Linked DNA regions of Homo sapiens. The protein of the gene in region 3 interacts with the protein of the main gene of each other region in a pairwise test. Each region holds a gene or a part of one and is shown on either strand. Other genes may lie near its edges.

Region 1 (3,520 bases), on a different chromosome or scaffold from region 3:
GCAAGCAGGGATGGGAGGTATGAGGGTCACAGCCGAGTGACAGCCTGGGCAGGTGCTAGCAGGTGAGTGGCAGGTACCTGGCTGCCCAGGCTGAGGTGGCGCTGGGCTCTGCACCGAGCCTGGGGCAGGTCTGGAGGCCTGGACTGAGTTGGCCCGTCTCAAACCTGCAGAGGAAAGAAAAGAAAACAGCCATTATGTGTCACACACACACACACAGCAGGAAGGAGCTTGGGACCACTCAGCTGGTGTGGGGTGAGCCCCTTGGACTTTCACTGGAGGCAGCTCCTCACTCGCTCAGCTCTTTCTGACTCTTCTGCCTTCAGTGTGTTCTTTCTTCTCAATACTCAGACTCTGGTGAGTCACAGCAGCAGCAGTTGTTAAAAAGCACAGGTTCTACAATCCTCCTTCCACCTGTGTGACGTTGCTCAAGTGACCTGTCCTCTCTGGGCCTCAGTTTCCTCACCTGGTATATGGAGATAATCACTTAGCTGATAGAGTTGTGGGGAAGATACAATGACACAAACAGGCAATGCTCAGAACAGTGCTTGGCATGTACTAAAGACTCGACACATGACAGGTGGTGAGATTATTTTATTATTATTGAAAGAATGTGTCTCTATCTTCATATGGACTTGGCTTTGCCTTCCTGCTGTTTCCCATATGGCCTGTGTGACCCTGGGCTGGATACTCATCCTCTCTGAACCTTAGATGCCCCATGGAGGCAACAGTTCCACTTAACTCATAATGATAATGAATTCATACTTATTTAGTGCTTACCATGTGCCCTGGACTTTACATATAAGAACTTCTTTAATTTCTACTAATAACCTTATGGGGTGGGGCCTTATGATCTCCATTTTATAGATGGGGAAACTGAGGCACAGAGAAGTTACTGAGCTCATCTAATGTCTCTTGGCTGGTTACTGCAGAGCCAGGGTTTGAACGCTGGCAGTTGGCCTCTGGAATCTGTGCCAGAGACCCTTACATGCTGTTGTTTCCCAGAGAGGGACTGAATGGAATGATGTGTGCAGCAGTTTCTGGTACCCAGAAGGTGTGATGTTCTGGGAAGAAAGCCCTGCTTTTTCTTACCTCACTGGGCTAGATGCCATCTTTCCTGAATCCAGCACTTTTGGCTGGATGGATGCTTGAATACACATAACAAAAGGTGCTTTACCACCTCTGCCTGGGGGCTTACAAATCACCAAGTCTTGTCCCAGGTTCCCACATTAGCACTGCCATTTGTTTGTTCACTTGAGGCCCTGTTCATTTGTCCATTCATTCATTTGTTCATTCAACAAGCATCCAGTGGGTGTCTACCAAGTGCCAATCCCTGTGCTAAGATGAACAAAACACCATCTTATATCCTCCAGGAGTGCACAGCCCAGTCACAGGAAGGAGACAGACACTGAAATGATGAGTTTATGATGCAACAATACCCAACAGTCATTGAGTTCTTCAAATGCACCAGGCCTTGAACATCGCCTCATGGAAGCTTCACAACTCAATGCCATGCATGGTATTGTGCTCCCCATTTTGCAGTTGAGGTAGTGGGGGTTAAATATGCCCAAGGTCACATAACCAGGAAGCCCCGAAGGTAGGACTTCTGTCCAAATCTATCTCAGATCTTGTTGAATGTGTAAATCACACCTGAAGCCCATCAACAATAGAATAAGCCGCTCCAAGAGGTAGGGAGACAGAGAGTATGTGGGTGATCAAAAGCCTTTCAGAGACCTCTGAAGGGATTTCCACACTGTGTGTGAGGGAGGACTCTGAGATTCCAGGATTAAGCCCTGGAACAAGGGAGTTTTACTGGGAATTTGTTTTACTGAGCTGCTCTCAGTCCCTCAAGTGGAACTTGTAACAGACCAGCTAGGAGCATTGGCTCTGCACGTGAACTGCCTGGGTTAAACACTAGCCCTGCTATTACTTTTATGTGACCTTGAGATTGTTTTAGCCTCTCTTTGCTGCATCTATTATGTGAAGATGACTACAATAGTACCTATCCAAAAAGAGCTGTGGATTGGATCAGTATGACCCATGCAAAGGGTTTAATCACATACCCGGCAGAGAGTAGATGCTCAATAAGTTTAAGTTGTTATTATGATTATTAATTCAAATCTGTAAGTATTTGAGAGCCTATAATCAACTAAGAATCTTAGTATAGGCTGGAAAATGATGAGCAAGAGATAAAATTATGGTAGATGCTCCAAATATTTGGAAACATAATAAATTAATGGAGAGAGACATGTCCCTGGTATTACAAGGGAGAGAGATTCAGGCTATAATGCTTTAGACAGTGATAAGTCCTGCATTAGGGCTGCGTCTCACCACCCTGGGAGCTCAGAGAAGGTAGCAGCTAACCCAACTCAAGGTGGAGCAGGTGGATGCTAGAAGCTAGACAAGACGAATATTTACATTGACTCCTGAGGGACAGGGGATTCAAATCCAGTTCAGAAATGTCCTATGACTGTCTTTGTCCTCAGAAGACAAAATAATATAGACGTTAAAAGCAGGATTTGATATGTGGAAATTAACTCAAAATGAATCAAAGACCCAAATATAAGGGCTAAAACTATAAAACTCTTAGAAGAAAACATAAAGGAACTTCTTCATGATCTTAGATTAGGCAATGATTTCTTAGATATGACACTAAAAACATAGGCAAGAAAAGAAAAAGAAAAGAAACTGGGCTTCATCAAAATAAAAGCCTTCTTTGCATCAAATGACACTATAAAAGAGTGAAAAAACAACCCATGAAATAAGAGAAAAATGTGTAAATTATATATCTGATAAGACATTAATATCCAGAATATATAAAGAACTTCTATGACTCAACAACAAAAGACAAACTATCCAGTTTAAAATGTGTTCAAAGGACTTGAATAGCTGTGTCTCCAGGGAAAATATCCAAATGGCCAAAAGCACAAGAAAAGATGCTCAGTATCACTAATCATAGGGAAATGCAAGTCAAAACCACAAGGAGATGCCACTTCACACCACTGGGATGACTTATTAAAAACAAAAACAAAACCCAGAGAATAACAAATATTGGTGAGGACATGGAGAAATGAGAACCCTTTTGCATTGTTGGTGGGAATCTAAAAATGTCTCAGCCACCATGGAAAACGGAATGGTGGTTCCTCAAAAAATTAAACACAGAATTACCATATGATCCAGCAACTTCACTTATAGGTATATACTCAAAAGAACAGAGTGCAACAGATATTTGTATGTCAGGCGCACAATGACATCATTTACAACAGCTAAAAGGTTGAAATAAACCAAACTCCCACTGATGGGTGAATGGATAAACAGAATGTAGTATATATAATATATATATACACACACACCACTATATATATGTATATATACATGTATATACATATACACCACTATATATAGTATATGCACTGTGTGTATATACACTATATGTATATAATATATAACGTATACTGTATATTGTATATTTTATATTATATATACTGTTTCTATATATTCTATTGTATATATATGTACACTA
Region 2 (3,520 bases), on a different chromosome or scaffold from region 3:
ATATAAAAATCAAGATAGGCCTCCTAGCACTTGGGGAGGCCAAGGCAGATAGAACACCTGAGGTCAGGAGTTCAAGACCAGCCTGGCCTACATGGTGAAATCCTGTCTCTACTAAAAATACAAAAATTAGCTGGGTGTGGTCATGGGCGCCTATAATCCCAGCTACTCTGGAAGCTGAGGCAGGAGAATTGCTTGAACCCAGTGGGCGGAGGTTGCAGTGAGCCAAGATCACGCCACTTCATTCCAGCCTTGGCGACAAGAGTGAAATCTGTCTCCAAAAAAAAAAAAAAAAAAAAATTCAAGATAACCTTTAGAAAGGCCAAAATCAGAGTTGCACAATCCAAGTTCTAGAGCCTATGCACTTTATTAATTAGCTAGTCCTCCAAAAGCTCAATGATCTACTTGGTTTCATCTTATACATATTAACAACAGATTTGGTTTTCTAAGGACATATCCTGGATGGGCCACTTACTAGCTTAATGCCCTTAGACAAGAAGTTACTTTACTGTCTGAGCCTGGGTTTTTTCATTCGAAAAATGAGGATAAACAGCTACACCTCAAGACTGTTGTTAAGGATTACAGATAGTTATGTAATGCACCAACAGAGTCTGGCACTTAGAAGTACAATAAGTGTAACCAATATCATAATTACAGGAATTGTAAGCCAATTGCAAATTGATCAGAAAAGTCAAATTACAAAAAAATTGAGGGACAGGAGCAAAGAGACTAAAGACAGCTATAGCCGGGCGCGGTGGCTCACGCCTGTAATCCCAGCACTTTGGGCGGCCGAGGCGGGCGGATCACGAGGTCAGGAGATCAAGACCATCCTGGCTAACACGGTGAAACCCCGTCTGTACTAAAAATACAAAAAATTAGCTGGGCATGGTGGTGGGCGCCTGTAGTCCCAGCTACTCAGGAGGCTGAGGCAGGAGAATGGCGTGAACTCAGGAGGCGGAGCTTGCAGTGAGCAGAAGTCGTGCCACTGCACTCCAGCCTGGGCAACAGAGCGAGACTCTGTCTCAAAAAAAAAAAAAAAAGGCAGCTATAACAATAAATAGCTGGCAGCAAGAAAACAATCAAGAAACTACACAGACACAAAAACTCAGAAACTACAGACTGAAGCCAACAGCCCACACACTTCAATAGCTGTTGAGGACATCACTAATGTTTTTATAAGATGTAACAATGATGTGCCTGAAGATGACATTAAGCCCTTTAAAACAGATTAAACTTTTATTCCATGTGTTTAAAAAAAAAGATAAGCACATAATTGACTTGGGAAAGATTCCTATCAAAAGCGATTTAGCATCACAAATTTAACACGTTGGATATCTAAACTTTAATTAACTGCAAAACTCCAGTACCAAGCTTCTGTTATACTTAATATGTAAAGGAACCTCCCGAATTTCAGACGCCATTTTTTCTACTAAACACTGAAAAAGATGTATTTCAAACACATTAATTATGAAATACTTAAATGCAATGGCCTAAGGCATCATCAGTTTCTTAATAGCTAAAACAAGATAAAGTTTGGTCTCCCTCATTGCTAAATGTTTTTAGATCTACCAAAGAGACACAGACATGTGCCATAGAAATCCCTTTTCACTTGTATTTTCTCCCTACATTTGGAAGGCGGTAAAAAGCGAAAAACATCTGTTTCTTCCTGTAATGCTGACAACCCTCATTCTATGGTTTAAAAATAAAAGATGCTTATGGAAGCTTATAGATATAATGATCACCTGCTTCAAAGGCAGCTGGCAATTAATTGATCCAAATACATGCAAAATTAAGGCCAAAAAGAAATTTCCCTAAGGACAATGCCAGTGTTCCCCAAGCCTCTGGTAATTTCCAAGACACCCGTAAAAAAATAGCAGAGGAGAGTAAAGAAGCAAACGTAGTGGCAGATGACATGAAGAGTTGACAGCTGAGACACAAGGGCCTGTGTCAATCTGGATTCATTTGACCACCATAAGAACAGTTTCCATGAGAGCTGCTTAGAGAAAATCTGGTTCACTCTGGCCAACAATCACCCTTCATCCAGCTCAAGGAAGGCCAGATGTTCAACCATTAAAGGAGGACACCTTATTAAAAACAGGAACTGGAAAATCTAATTAAAGAAAGGCCCTAAATCTGATCACATTTTTTATAAACAGTTTTTACTCTCTATATGGCCTTAAAACATTGTATATCCAAACAGAAATAATAATGACATTAGACTTGATTCATTGACTCAGTTTCTATTTCTGGATCTGCCTCTGAATGAATCACAGTGTGACCTTGAGAAAGTTATTTCACCTCTTTCTCTATCTACATTTTCCCACCAGTTACAAAGTTAGGTAAAACCTACTGATCCTCTTTTCCTGAACAATGCTGAGTGAATGACATAAACATACGGAAGCTGCTACACAAAAATATATTTGCTGATTACCAACCAGCTGTATCCAACCATCAAATACAAAATAGGTGATGTCCTTATAAAAACGACTAGCTCTGCAATTTTACTTTGCACAATTTAAAAAACAAATCACCTGGAGAGGTCAACAAAACCCAGGTGGTTCCTATACAGGACTCTTTTAAGAGTCCCAAATTTCAAATTTGGGAATACTTAGCAAATTAAACTAAAATGCAAGTTCCAAGAAGACACTTGTTTTTTTAAAGGAAAACAAACATTCAACCTATTTAGGGTCTTGTGATCTTCCAGGACTCTGTTCAATCCTCCTCTCTCAAGTCCTCTTCCCTCACCCCTTGCCACCAAGCAGATAAGCCACTGCATCCGTGATGTTCCCAGCAGTGATTTGCATGTCTATATCTATACAGATATTTCTGTGCACTGCACTTATGTCATGTCTCCTCCTCACTAGTCAGCGAGCCTTAGAAAGGCAAAATCATGATTTAATGGTCTATGTATCACCTACATCTAGAATACTGCCTAGCACAGTGTGCTACTATTTAGAATACTGCCTAGCACAATGTGGCTGCTCAATGTGTGTGTGTGTGTGTGTGTGTGTATGCACATATATGCTTACAAATGTATATACATATATATATTTGCTAAATGAATGAAATAAATAAATTTCCAAAGTCTTATGCTAGTAGGAATAGCTATCATTAATATTAATGATTGATAATCATTATGGTGAATTATTTTCACTTTTCAAAAACTATATACGTGAATGTCACTTAGATAAAGAGAAAATATGTGATTTCTTACCAACATTAAATTCACAAAAATTAATGCAAAAACTTTCCAATCTTCTTCTATCAAAAGTGATCTTTCTTTTTTATTTGTTTTGCATTTTGTTTTTGTTTTTTTACAATTTATCTAGTGGGTATAAAACTACAAACATTCTTTTTAACAATCTACACAATAAAGAGAAGGTGGAAAAGAAGAAAAATAAGAGTATGTGAAATGAATGGAAGAAGCTACTTTTAAGGGTAAGACCCTATAAGGGCAAAATAAAAGGTGGCCCACAGATGAAAATTAAAATGTGGTCAATAAAAGTAGCTACCCCAATATTAC
Region 3 (3,544 bases):
ACCTTGGGCAATTTAATCCCTCTGGACTTTGGTTTCCTAACTCGTGAGATGACAATAGTAGTTTCTTTCTAATTTGGCTGTTTTTAGGTATAAACGAAAAGAATATATAGGTAAAGTGCTTAGTACAACCGTCTGGGAAATAGCAAAGTCCCCATAATGCCAGCTGCCGTTACTGTTATGTCTAGTATCGAACTTCTCCTGGAAATCAGCCACCTCTCTCCTTGAGCCCTGTCCAGGGCCAGTGGGTTTTTGGTAGTGTAGAGGGGCAACTCCTATCTTGCAAGGAACGGCAAGAGGTCGGGGCAAGCAGCTCTCTCTGGTCACTTCTTCAAGGGGGTGGTTGCTGAGGCTTTGGAAGGGAATTTAGTGAGCTCAGACCCTCTCAAGGCTACTGTGCTCCAAGTATGTGGCAGTTCATTTCAAGCTTGATGGCACACTCTTTGCAGAGCAGTTGCCAAGGAACGAGGTAATCTTGTGACAGAAATACTGCCTGATGCTGTCAGTTTGATGGTCGAAAAGGTTTTAGGTGGTATCAAATTTTATTACTAGCATTCCTGGTCTCCATGAAAGAACCACATAAGAAGACAAGTTATGTCAAAGGACAAAACCACAGACCTAGATGGGCACCGTGCATACAGCAGACACTTGGTTTCCTTTTGATATTGACTCAAACAGGGACTGGATTAAAAAAAGAAGAAAATAACAACAAGACCACAGACTTAAGCTGATCAGTGGTCTAACACTGGCAAGATTACTTTTGTTGATAAATTGATTTCTTGGGAAATCCTGGGAAAGTTCCTGGACGTGACCCTGTGGTCCTACCACCACTAGCTACCTGTGACCTTGGGTGAGTCAGCAAGTGGATGCAAAGGGAACACACACAGCACGGTGCCACAGCGGGCACCACCTGCCCCCCGCCGTCACAGATGGCTTGCAAATAAGCTACTCACGTACTTCCTGAGATCTGCTGCACCCAAACACACCAAGCTCAGAGAGGCTTTTGAGGCAGACAAGGGCAGGGAGAGAGGATGGTTCTTCTCGCATGGGTATTTAAGGAGTGTAGTGTCATGCGTGAGTGACTTTTTGGTTAGTAAGTTCTGCTGATTACATGAAGCAATGGGATAACTATCACGGCCAAAAGAGTATTCCTACTGCAGGCTCAGTAAGACTTTCTAATGATATTGAAGTAGTAGTTCCCTGAAAAGAGCTACTATGATCACATGGCTTGGTTAACTGTTTCTTACAAGTCTGAGCATGAATTTAACACACACGAACTATACACTGACAAAGACAGGATGCTCCTGAAATAAAATCACAGCATCTTATTGCATATACTACATCATCCAAGGTCAAAACCCTTTCATAGAGACATTTAAAACTATAACCAAGTAAAAGAGAAAATAGATGCAAATTTGCTTTTACAAAATTTGAAAATCAACCAAAAGAGTAAGGCACAAGATGCAGTCAGCTACAAAGCACTTCAGAGAACAGCGCTTTGCTCTCAGGTCTGGGACCCACCCCCTGGGCAAGGCCGCCTGGCAGCAGGCAGGAACCAAACCCCTGCCACCTCCACTCACTCCCAGGGTTCCTCTTTGCAGGATGGTGGGGAGCGCAGGCACCAAGGCAGGAAGGCCAGGGCAGGAAGATGCCCCGCGTCCTTCACTTTCCCTCAGTGTGAGCACACCAAGTTCCCTCTAACCAGGAGAACAGGACCCTAGGCACCAAAAGTCAAGCATGAGGGACTGCCACAGGCAGTCTGGCAGGTGTCTTTCAGATGCTAAAGTGCCAGGGTTTGCAGGATACTTGGATGGTTTACAGTGATGATGAGTTGGAGTCTTTAAACTCAATGGTGTCCTAGATACTCAGTTAGGATGATAGTGATCCCATCCATCCCGTGGTTGGTCACTGAGCTGCGTACGAAGCTGGCCTAGAATCAGACCCCGCATCCATAGGGAGAAATCATCACCCTCTACCGGGATCTGGATTTGTTTTCAGGATCTATTCTCATGAAGGAGACTTGAGAAGCTGAGAAACTCCAGAAGAATTTAAGTTTCAAAGTCAGATGAGTTTGCTACTCAACCTTCATCATGGTTGTAGCTTTCGCTCCCAGAATACAAGGCCAGAGAGGCACCAACCAGGAGGCAAACTTCACCTTCAAGGCCAGGCAACGCCTGGCTACAGTTAGACCCCGCAGCAGGGTTAAAGAAGGCTACAGTTAGACCCCGCAGCAGGGTTAAAGAAGGCTACAGTTAGACCCCGCAGCAGGGTTAGAGAAGTCTCTCCAGCAAGGCTGGGAGTTCAGCTTCCAATAGATCTAGAGGGCCAGGAGAAAAAGCATGCTGAGTGCCTGGCGGCATCTAGTGGTCACTAGTGGTCACTGCCAGTCATCAGCTTTCCTCCAATAAACCAGTTATCATGAGAATATAAAACAATCAGGAAGAAAAAAAAGTGTAGCTTTTTTTTTTTTTTTTTTTTTTTTTGAGACAAGAGTTTCGCTCTGTTGCCCAGGATAGAGTGCAGTGGCAGTGATCTTGGCTCACTGTAAGCTCCACCTCCCGGGTTCACGCCATTCTCCTGCCTCAGCCTCCCGAGTAGCTGGGACTACAGGCGCCTGCCACCATGCCCGGCTAATTTTTTGTATTTTTAGTAGAGACGGGGTTTCACCGTGTTAGCCTGGATGGTCTTGATCTCCTGACCTCGTGATCTGCCTGCCTCGGCCTCCCAAAGTGCTGGGATTACAGGCGTGAGCCACCGCGCCCGGCCAAAAGTTTAGTATTTTATCAAAGAAAACCATGACATACTAAATAGTCCTGAAACAAAAACGATTTACACATTTTCTTCTGACTAGGTATTTATTAAGTTCTAAAACCTTGAATAACTGCTATTTTAAAAATTCACACTAAAAGAAAACTAGAAATGTTAACATCTTTTACAGAGGGCAGTAAGTGGCCTTTTTTTTTTTTTTAAATTATAATTGCCTAGGAGAAAGGTGAGCTAATCTCTTTGGAAGTGTCATCAGCTGGTGAACTTCATCTTGGTCTCCACTTTATGTCTTTCACTCCATGAAAATGTCTTTTCAAAGCAGTGTTATCCGCCCATGGTGAGTTTAAATAGGCATCATCATCATTTTCTTCCAATCTCTGGAAATAAGTATGTTTTATTCAGGCAGGCATTTCAGGAAAGTGTTTTGCACATAAAGAGACTGAAGAAAGAGTCCATGACTGACCTCCCCCTCTCCCTGCCCTCTAGGAGCAGGATACTGCCATGTCTAACACCAGGGGACACCTGGCAGGACCCCGACAGACCTGCAGACAGAAGCTCTAGAAAGACCCCTCCCCGGCATTCTGCAGAGCTCACTGCTCCCCAGCAGCCCCAGGTAAGGCACACAGGCTATGTGTGGGCGCCAGCACTGCAGAAAGCCCATCTGTCCCCTGCTACCTTGAGCTCCTCTTGTCTTCTGTGATAGTACAGCATCAGCTGCTTCTGCTCCTCACTGCTAATAATAGGCTCTCGGGCTGGAGCTCCCTGTCCCCTCTGCAAAGAG
Region 4 (3,520 bases), on a different chromosome or scaffold from region 3:
CAAAATATGTTATAAATAATGAGGGCATTCCTTCAAAAGCACAAGTTTTCTTAAAAACGGGACTTTAAAAATAGAATAAACAGTGATGGGATAGAGTAAAATAGTTTATTATAATTGAGGTTTAGATGACAGTGAGTTTCTTACAGTAATTTACCACATCATACATCCAAAGAATGTAATTCAAATGCATTATAAATACAAAGGAGAAACATCTCTTAGTGTTGGTTTATAAGCTACAGAAAATAGTATTTCATATTTTTCAATCCTTGAATGTGTAACTACTTACTGACTACTTGTAAATTATTTTCTAAAACTTCCCTAAGTTTGCAGAACTGAGGAGCAAATTTTGCAATAATCTTCTAAAAAGGTATACTTCCAATATTAATTTAAAGACAGCTTAACATATTCCGTATTTTTTAATTTATAATTTAAATATAATTACTAATATAAAAATTCAGCAGCCAAACACAGGTAAAACATATCATTTTAAAAGATCTCAAAGGTATATCAAAAAATAATCGATAAAGAATTATGAATCATACAACAAAGAGATGAATATGTATTGAAAAATTTAGTAATATGGGCCTTGATTAAAATTAATATATATATGACCTGTCTTAACTTGGCATCAAAAAGCAAAGCAAAAACAAATACAAAACTTTCTTTTAGGAACTTTTATATGTTCAGAGCTACTTAAGAGTATTGAGAGAAAATGGGCTGATGTATTTTATTTCCACATCTTGCAAAGCTAAAGATGATGTGCAGATAATGACATCACAAAGTAGGCACAAGTAGAATTTGGTTTTTAATTTGTTTTGTCTATCATGCTCTCATTTCAGAACCAAAATTACAATTAAATTAACCCTCAAATAGGTGTTGGGATGCATTAAGTAATTAAAATGGGCATTACAAAGACTAAAGTCATTTCAAAAAATATGCAATATGCTAAAATTCCATGTAGTGCCTGTAATGTAAAAACATTCTAAGCAAGTGAGACTATAGCTATCCTGCATGTACATGTACGCACTTATTTAATATGAAGCCACAAATTCATATATTCCACTTCTGCATAGCTCAGAGAGCAAAAGCTAACACTAGATTAGTAATGCTTGATCCCTTTGTACATGAAGTGTATCATGTAATAGAGAAATTAGATTCCACAAACTAATTTCTGCCATATATTTTTACACTATTTATAAACATATCTGATCTTCCATATGATATGTAGAGAAATTGAAATAGCAATTCACATTGTATTGTAGAATCTAATCAGGAAGCACATGTTATATTATTAATGTTTATTGATTTGTAAGCTTTATACATTCTGTCCAAATTCTACAAGTAAAAACAGCTCTGAAATCCTTTTGATCTTTCTTTTTCTACAGCTAAGGTATTTTTAGTGTTTAAATAGCAGTTGATGTCTTATCTATTGTCTTATACGGTACTGGATTCATTCCTGGTTACTATAATACTCAATTTAACAACTAGTAATATTAATGCTTTTTCCAAGCTTGGGACATATATAGCAGATAATATAAACATGTTTACTATGATTTATGATACTATACTACTCACTATCATGAATACAAAGTAATTAACAGATAAAGCTATTATGAACGCAAACAAGAGAACCATGCTCCCCTCAAAAAAGAAAAAAAGAAATGGAACATAAACTGTAAATACTTGTATATTTCCTTCTAACACTATCTAGTATATTAGACAAATAGCTAACAATAAATCATTTGTTTATTCATGTTAAATAAATTTAATATGTACATTAACTTCTGACTTAACTTAAAAGTATATGGAATGTTTTCCAGAGACTATTTTGACTGTGTCAATTACCCTAGATACCAAAGTTGTTGTATTGTGTTGCTTGATGAAATAGGACATAGATCAACCCTCAAAACCAGTATTACAAGCCTGGCAAATAGCATCACATTTGGGTGACGCACAGAATCCATCACCCTAGGGAAAAATGCATTGGGTCATAGTACAGAGTCTTTACATGTTCCATATTATTTCTACATAACGTTTTGAGATGATAGAATTGTAAACTATAAAGTGGTAGCCCATAAAGTGATATACTCACAAACAGTCCTGTCCCTTAACTGCTCCTCTTAACAGAAATGAGACTTAAAAAATGATCTCAGAAGCATTTCTTACAATACACTGAAAGGTGGCATTTTGATTTATAATTTTTTTCATTTAAAAAAATTCCTTAGTAAATTCAGAGCAGATATAAGTATTATGATAACAATTGATTCATTATGTTTAAACTCCATACTCATTTCAAACTTTTAGACTTCATAATGTAGGTCATGTTAACTCCTTAAAAGATTCACATTTCAAGCACAGAGTTAATAGTTAGCATTCTAAATTCCACCATCAAGATGTGTCTAAGTATTATCGGTCTACATACATTCCACATATAAAACACACCTATAATAGCATGCACATATATTGGCAATAATTCAAACATAGCAAAGCTATCGTGAGTACTTCAAACATTTGCAGGCAATTACATTGCTAGAACTCCTCTCATATTATAGGTATCCTATGACAAGCTACTAAAAAATTACACAAATCAAAAAGTGTTACCTTTGTTCAAATAATACTGCTGTTCATTATACAACAGAAAACATCATCCTTAATCTCTCAGGAACCAAGATAGTGGTGGATTCTTGGAGCAGAAGTAGTGCAGAATGGTTTGCGGCAAAATCGAAACATATTGTTTAAGTAAACCTTAAGGGGAGGGGAGCATATGCGCAATTGATGGATTTTTTTTTTTTTTTTTGGTATCATCTTCCACAAAACCTCCCACCAACCCCTCCCCACCACTTACCAGTAAACAATCTGCGATATTAAGGGACTGCAACTCTAAACACCTCCCTTTGCCTTATTTCCTTCTTGCTAAACTTTATTGCTTTTCCTCATTTTTGAAGCAACAAACAAAATTCATTAAATAAAAATTTATTAACAGATGCAGCCATAACATGAAATGTATGTTTGAAAACTTTGTAATAAATAAAATGAATCTAGACTTACTCCAAGAAACTTGCACTATGCTGATGTGAACAACATATACATTAAGTTCCTAAAGTTTTTCCAAACAAATCTTTAACTAAAGAAGCCATAAGCAAAAAAGGAATGCCTACGATTTGAACTAGAGTCTGTAACTCTCGCAAGAAAAACTGAGAAACATATCAAGTAAATCAAAACTGTCAAATTTATAAGCAGAGAACACTTCAATGCCCCAAATTTGCGGAATGCTTTTTATAGTCATAAATGCCTTAAAGACTGTACTCTTCCTTGTGTGACACTTAATTTTCACTATATATATTATTCCTTAAATGTGCTCTAGGTAAAGAAGGAAAAAAAAAATCTATCAGGAAGAATTTGGGTTAAAAGCAAAGTCCACGACAAGTAACCGTAAGATTTAAACCTCAGGAACAATTCACAAAAGAAAAGTCGAAACAGTACTTAGTTCTGAGCCACCGAATGGGGCGGAGGGCCTTCC
Region 5 (3,520 bases), on a different chromosome or scaffold from region 3:
GGTACACATCTGTAATCCCAGCTACTCAGAAGGATGAGTTGACACCGGGAGTTTGAGACCTGTCTAGGCAACATGGAGAGACCCCCTCCTCCTCAAAAAACAAACAAAAACTAAAAACAGGACGGGCGCGGTGGCTCATGCCTGTAATTCCAGCACTTTGGGAGGCCAAGGCGGGCAGATCACGCGGTCAGGAGATCAAAACCATCCTGGCTAACACAGTGAAACCCCATCTCTGCTAAAAATACAAAAAATTAGCGGGGCATGGTGGCAGGCGCCTGTAGTCCTAGCTACTCGGGAGGCTGAGGCAGGAGAATGGCATGAACCCAGGAGGCGGAGCTTGCAGTGAGCCGAGATAGTGTCACTGCCCTCCAGCCTGGGCGACAGAGCAAGACTCCTTCTCAAAAACAAAAACAAACAAACAAAACTAAAAACAAACTCACTTACACTAAATTAGTAAATTCTAGAATTCTAAGTTGATATGTTCCTACCTTTTTAAGGTTCTAAGGCTCTAAAAGTATGACTGTAAGTTTCCATGAGTGTATGTTTTCATCAGTCTAGGTTTCTAGATCAGACAAAGCTGGCAATCCACCAGTTGAATCTGGTTCATACTTTGTGGCATATACAGATTTCTCTCTCTCTCTCTTTTTTTTTTTTTTTTTTGAGACAGAGTTTTGCTATTGACGCCCAGGCTGGAGTACAATGGCACGATCTAGGCTCACTGCAACCTCCGCCTCTGAGGTTCAGGCGATTCTCCTGCCTCATCCTCCTGAGTAGCTGGGATTAGAGGCACGCGCCACCACACCCAGCTAATTTTTGTATTTTTAATAGAGACAGGGTTTTGCCGTGCTGGCCAGGCTGGTCTCAAACACCCAACCTCCAGTGATCCCCCCACCTTGGCCTCCCAAAGCGCTGGGATTATAGGCGTGAGCTACCGCGCCTAACCAGGTTTCTTATTGTTTTGAGACAGGGTCTCAACCTGTTGCCCAGGCTGGAGTGCAGTGGCACAATCTCGGCTCACTGCAACCTCTGCTTCCCGGGCTCAGGAGATTCTCCCACCTCAGCCTGTTGACTAGCTGGAACTACAGGCATGCGCCACCACACCTGGCTAATGTTTATATTTTTAGTAGAGACGGGGTTTCACCATGTTGGCCAGGCTGGTCTCGAACTCCTGGGCTCAAGCGATCCGCCCGCCTCGGCCTCTCAAAGTGCTGGGACTACAGGTTTCTAGATCAGCCAGGTTTCTTGAGCCAGCGCCATGGCTCATGCCTGTAATCCTAGCATTTTGGGAGGCCAAGGTGGGCAGATTGCCCGAGCCCAGGAGTTCAAGACCAGCCTGGCCATCATGGTGAAACCCCGCCTCAATTAAAAATACAAAAATTAGCCAGGCATGGTGGTGCGGGCCTGTAGTCCCAGCTACTCGGGACTCCCGAGGCGGGAGAATCTCATGAACCTGGGAGGTGGAGGTTGCAGTGAGCTGACATTGCGCCACTGCACTCCAGCCTGGGCAACAGAGTGAGACTCCACCTCAAATAAATAAATAAATAAATAAAGTTCCAAAAATCTTAGTATCAGAGATCCATCTTGTGATTATAAACTGCTGAGTTACTAAAGTTCTAAGATTTGGAGGGAACTGATTCTGACCTTTGGGTTTTAAGAATTCATGATTATGATCATCTATATTTTATGATTCTAGCGCTCCGTGTTTCTAAGATGTTAAGGTCCCAAGGGTCAAAGGTGCTAGGGTGTCATGTTTTAAAGGCTTATGATTATGACGTTCCATATCTCTGAGGCTCCTCAGGGTCTTTGCCAGTTTTAATGCTGATGATTAAACACTTCTAAGGTTCCAGACCTCTATGAATACTAAGTACTAAGGTTCAAGGGTCTACAGTTCTAAAGGTCTAAGGTCTTTCTATAACTATAAAGTTCTCTGGTCTTTGCTAATATTGTTCTGATACATCAAAGTAGGGTGACTACTAGGCACTCTGGCTTACCCCTGTAATCAAAGCACTTTCGGAGGCCGAGGTGGGAGGGTTATTTTAGCCCAGGAGTTCCACACCAGCCTGGGCAACATAGCAAGACCCCATCTTACAAAAAAATTTTTTTGTTTTGTTTTGAGACGGAGTTAAGCTCTTGTCACTTAGGATGGATTGAAATGGTGTGATCTCAGCTCACTGAAACCCCCATCTCCCGGGTTCAAGTGATTCTCCTGCCTCAGCCTCCTGGGTAGCTGAGATTACAGGTGCCCACCACCACACCCATCTAATTTTTGTATTTTTAGTAGTGTCACCATATTGGTCAGGCTGGTCTCAAACTCCTGATCTCAAGTGATCCATCCGCCTCAGCCTCCCAAAGTGCTGGGATTACAGGCATCCGCCACCATGCTTCGCCAAAAAAAAAAATTATTTTTAATTAGCCAGGCATGGTGGCGCATGCCTGTAGTTCCAGCTATTCAGGAGGCTGAGGTGGGAGGATCACTTGAGTCCAGGAGTTCAAGGCTGCAGTGAGCCATGATCACACCACTGCACTCCAGCCTGGGTGAAGAGTGAGACCCTGACTCAAAAAAAAAAAAAAAATGGTAGGGTGACCCACTGTACTGGTTGGCCCAAGGCTGAGAGTTTCGGTGGTAAAAGCAGGAAGGTTTTGGTCACTCTATGTCAGATTTCTCAAGATCCACATTTCTAATTGGAAACTCCAAAGGTTTAGTATTATCAAGTCCCAAAGGTTCCTGTGTATTACAGTTTCAGTTTCTAAGGGCCTATGATCCTAGGGAACAATGACTAAAATTTCTTAGGTCTGTGATGATAACGTTTCACATTTCCAAAGCTCTTTTTTTTTTTTTTTTTTTTTTTTTTTTGAGATAGGTTCTTGCTTTACTGCTGGGGCTGGAGTGCAGTGGCGCGATCTTGACTCACTGCAATCTCCACCTCACAGTCTCAGGCCATCCTCCCACCTCAGCCTCCCAAATAGCTGGAACTACAGATGCATGCCACCACGCCTGGCTAATTTTTTTTTTTATTTTTATTTTTAGTAGAGACAGGGTTTCACTATGTTGGCGAACATGGTCTCGAACTCCTGCACTCAAGAGATCTGTCCACCTTTGCCTCCCAAAGTGCTGGGATTACAGGCGTGAGCCACCGCGCCAGGCCAGAGGTCTTCATTTCAAGAGGTCTAAGAATCTCTTAGACATTTCAAGTTCCAAGGATCTGATGGCTCTGCATTTCGGGATTCTAAGGGAATATGCTTACAGAGTCCCACCATTCTGGGACTGTACATTTCTAAGGCTCTAAGGCTGTGCTGACCTATACAGCAGTCACAAGCCACATGTGGCTATTTAAATTTAATTAAAACAGGCCGGGTGCCGTGGCTCATGCCTGTAATCTCAGCACTTTGGGAGGCCGAGACATGTGGATCACCTGAGGTTGGGAGTTCGAGACCAGCCTGACCAACATGGAGAAACCCCGTCTCTAGTAAAAATACAAAATTAGCTGGGCGTGGTGGCACATGCCTGTAATCCCAGCTA

Evidence for each region.
Region 1: the proteins of CFAP298 (region 3) and RPH3A interact in a two-hybrid assay, tested with the Homo sapiens proteins (one large-scale study listed by BioGRID and IntAct).
Region 2: the proteins of CFAP298 (region 3) and FMN2 interact in a two-hybrid assay, tested with the Homo sapiens proteins (one large-scale study listed by BioGRID and IntAct).
Region 4: the proteins of CFAP298 (region 3) and TRPS1 interact in a two-hybrid assay, tested with the Homo sapiens proteins (one large-scale study listed by BioGRID and IntAct).
Region 5: the proteins of CFAP298 (region 3) and SPTBN4 interact in a two-hybrid assay, tested with the Homo sapiens proteins (one large-scale study listed by BioGRID and IntAct).

Annotation. Positions count from the first base shown.
Region 1 is NC_000012.12:112,871,728-112,875,247, reverse strand, and holds part of RPH3A (rabphilin-3A), read right to left. Parts: intron 2,681-3,520; exon of another isoform or gene 1,090-2,680; intron 464-1,089; exon of another isoform or gene 291-463; intron 165-290; coding exon 78-164; intron 1-77. UniProt on the Homo sapiens protein: Plays an essential role in docking and fusion steps of regulated exocytosis.
Region 2 is NC_000001.11:240,094,875-240,098,394, reverse strand, and holds part of FMN2 (formin-2), read right to left. Parts: intron 1-3,520. UniProt on the Homo sapiens protein: Actin-binding protein that is involved in actin cytoskeleton assembly and reorganization. Acts as an actin nucleation factor and promotes assembly of actin filaments together with SPIRE1 and SPIRE2.
Region 3 is NC_000021.9:32,598,834-32,602,377, forward strand, and holds the end of CFAP298 (cilia- and flagella-associated protein 298), read right to left. Parts: exon of another isoform or gene 3,535-3,544; coding exon 3,439-3,534; coding exon of another isoform or gene 3,391-3,438; exon of another isoform or gene 3,141-3,390; coding exon 3,030-3,140; 3' UTR 521-3,029; downstream 1-520. UniProt on the Homo sapiens protein: Plays a role in motile cilium function, possibly by acting on outer dynein arm assembly. Seems to be important for initiation rather than maintenance of cilium motility.
Region 4 is NC_000008.11:115,658,969-115,662,488, forward strand, and holds part of TRPS1 (zinc finger transcription factor Trps1), read right to left. Parts: intron 1-3,520. UniProt on the Homo sapiens protein: Transcriptional repressor. Binds specifically to GATA sequences and represses expression of GATA-regulated genes at selected sites and stages in vertebrate development. Regulates chondrocyte proliferation and differentiation.
Region 5 is NC_000019.10:40,473,486-40,477,005, reverse strand, and holds part of SPTBN4 (spectrin beta chain, non-erythrocytic 4), read right to left. Parts: intron 1-3,520.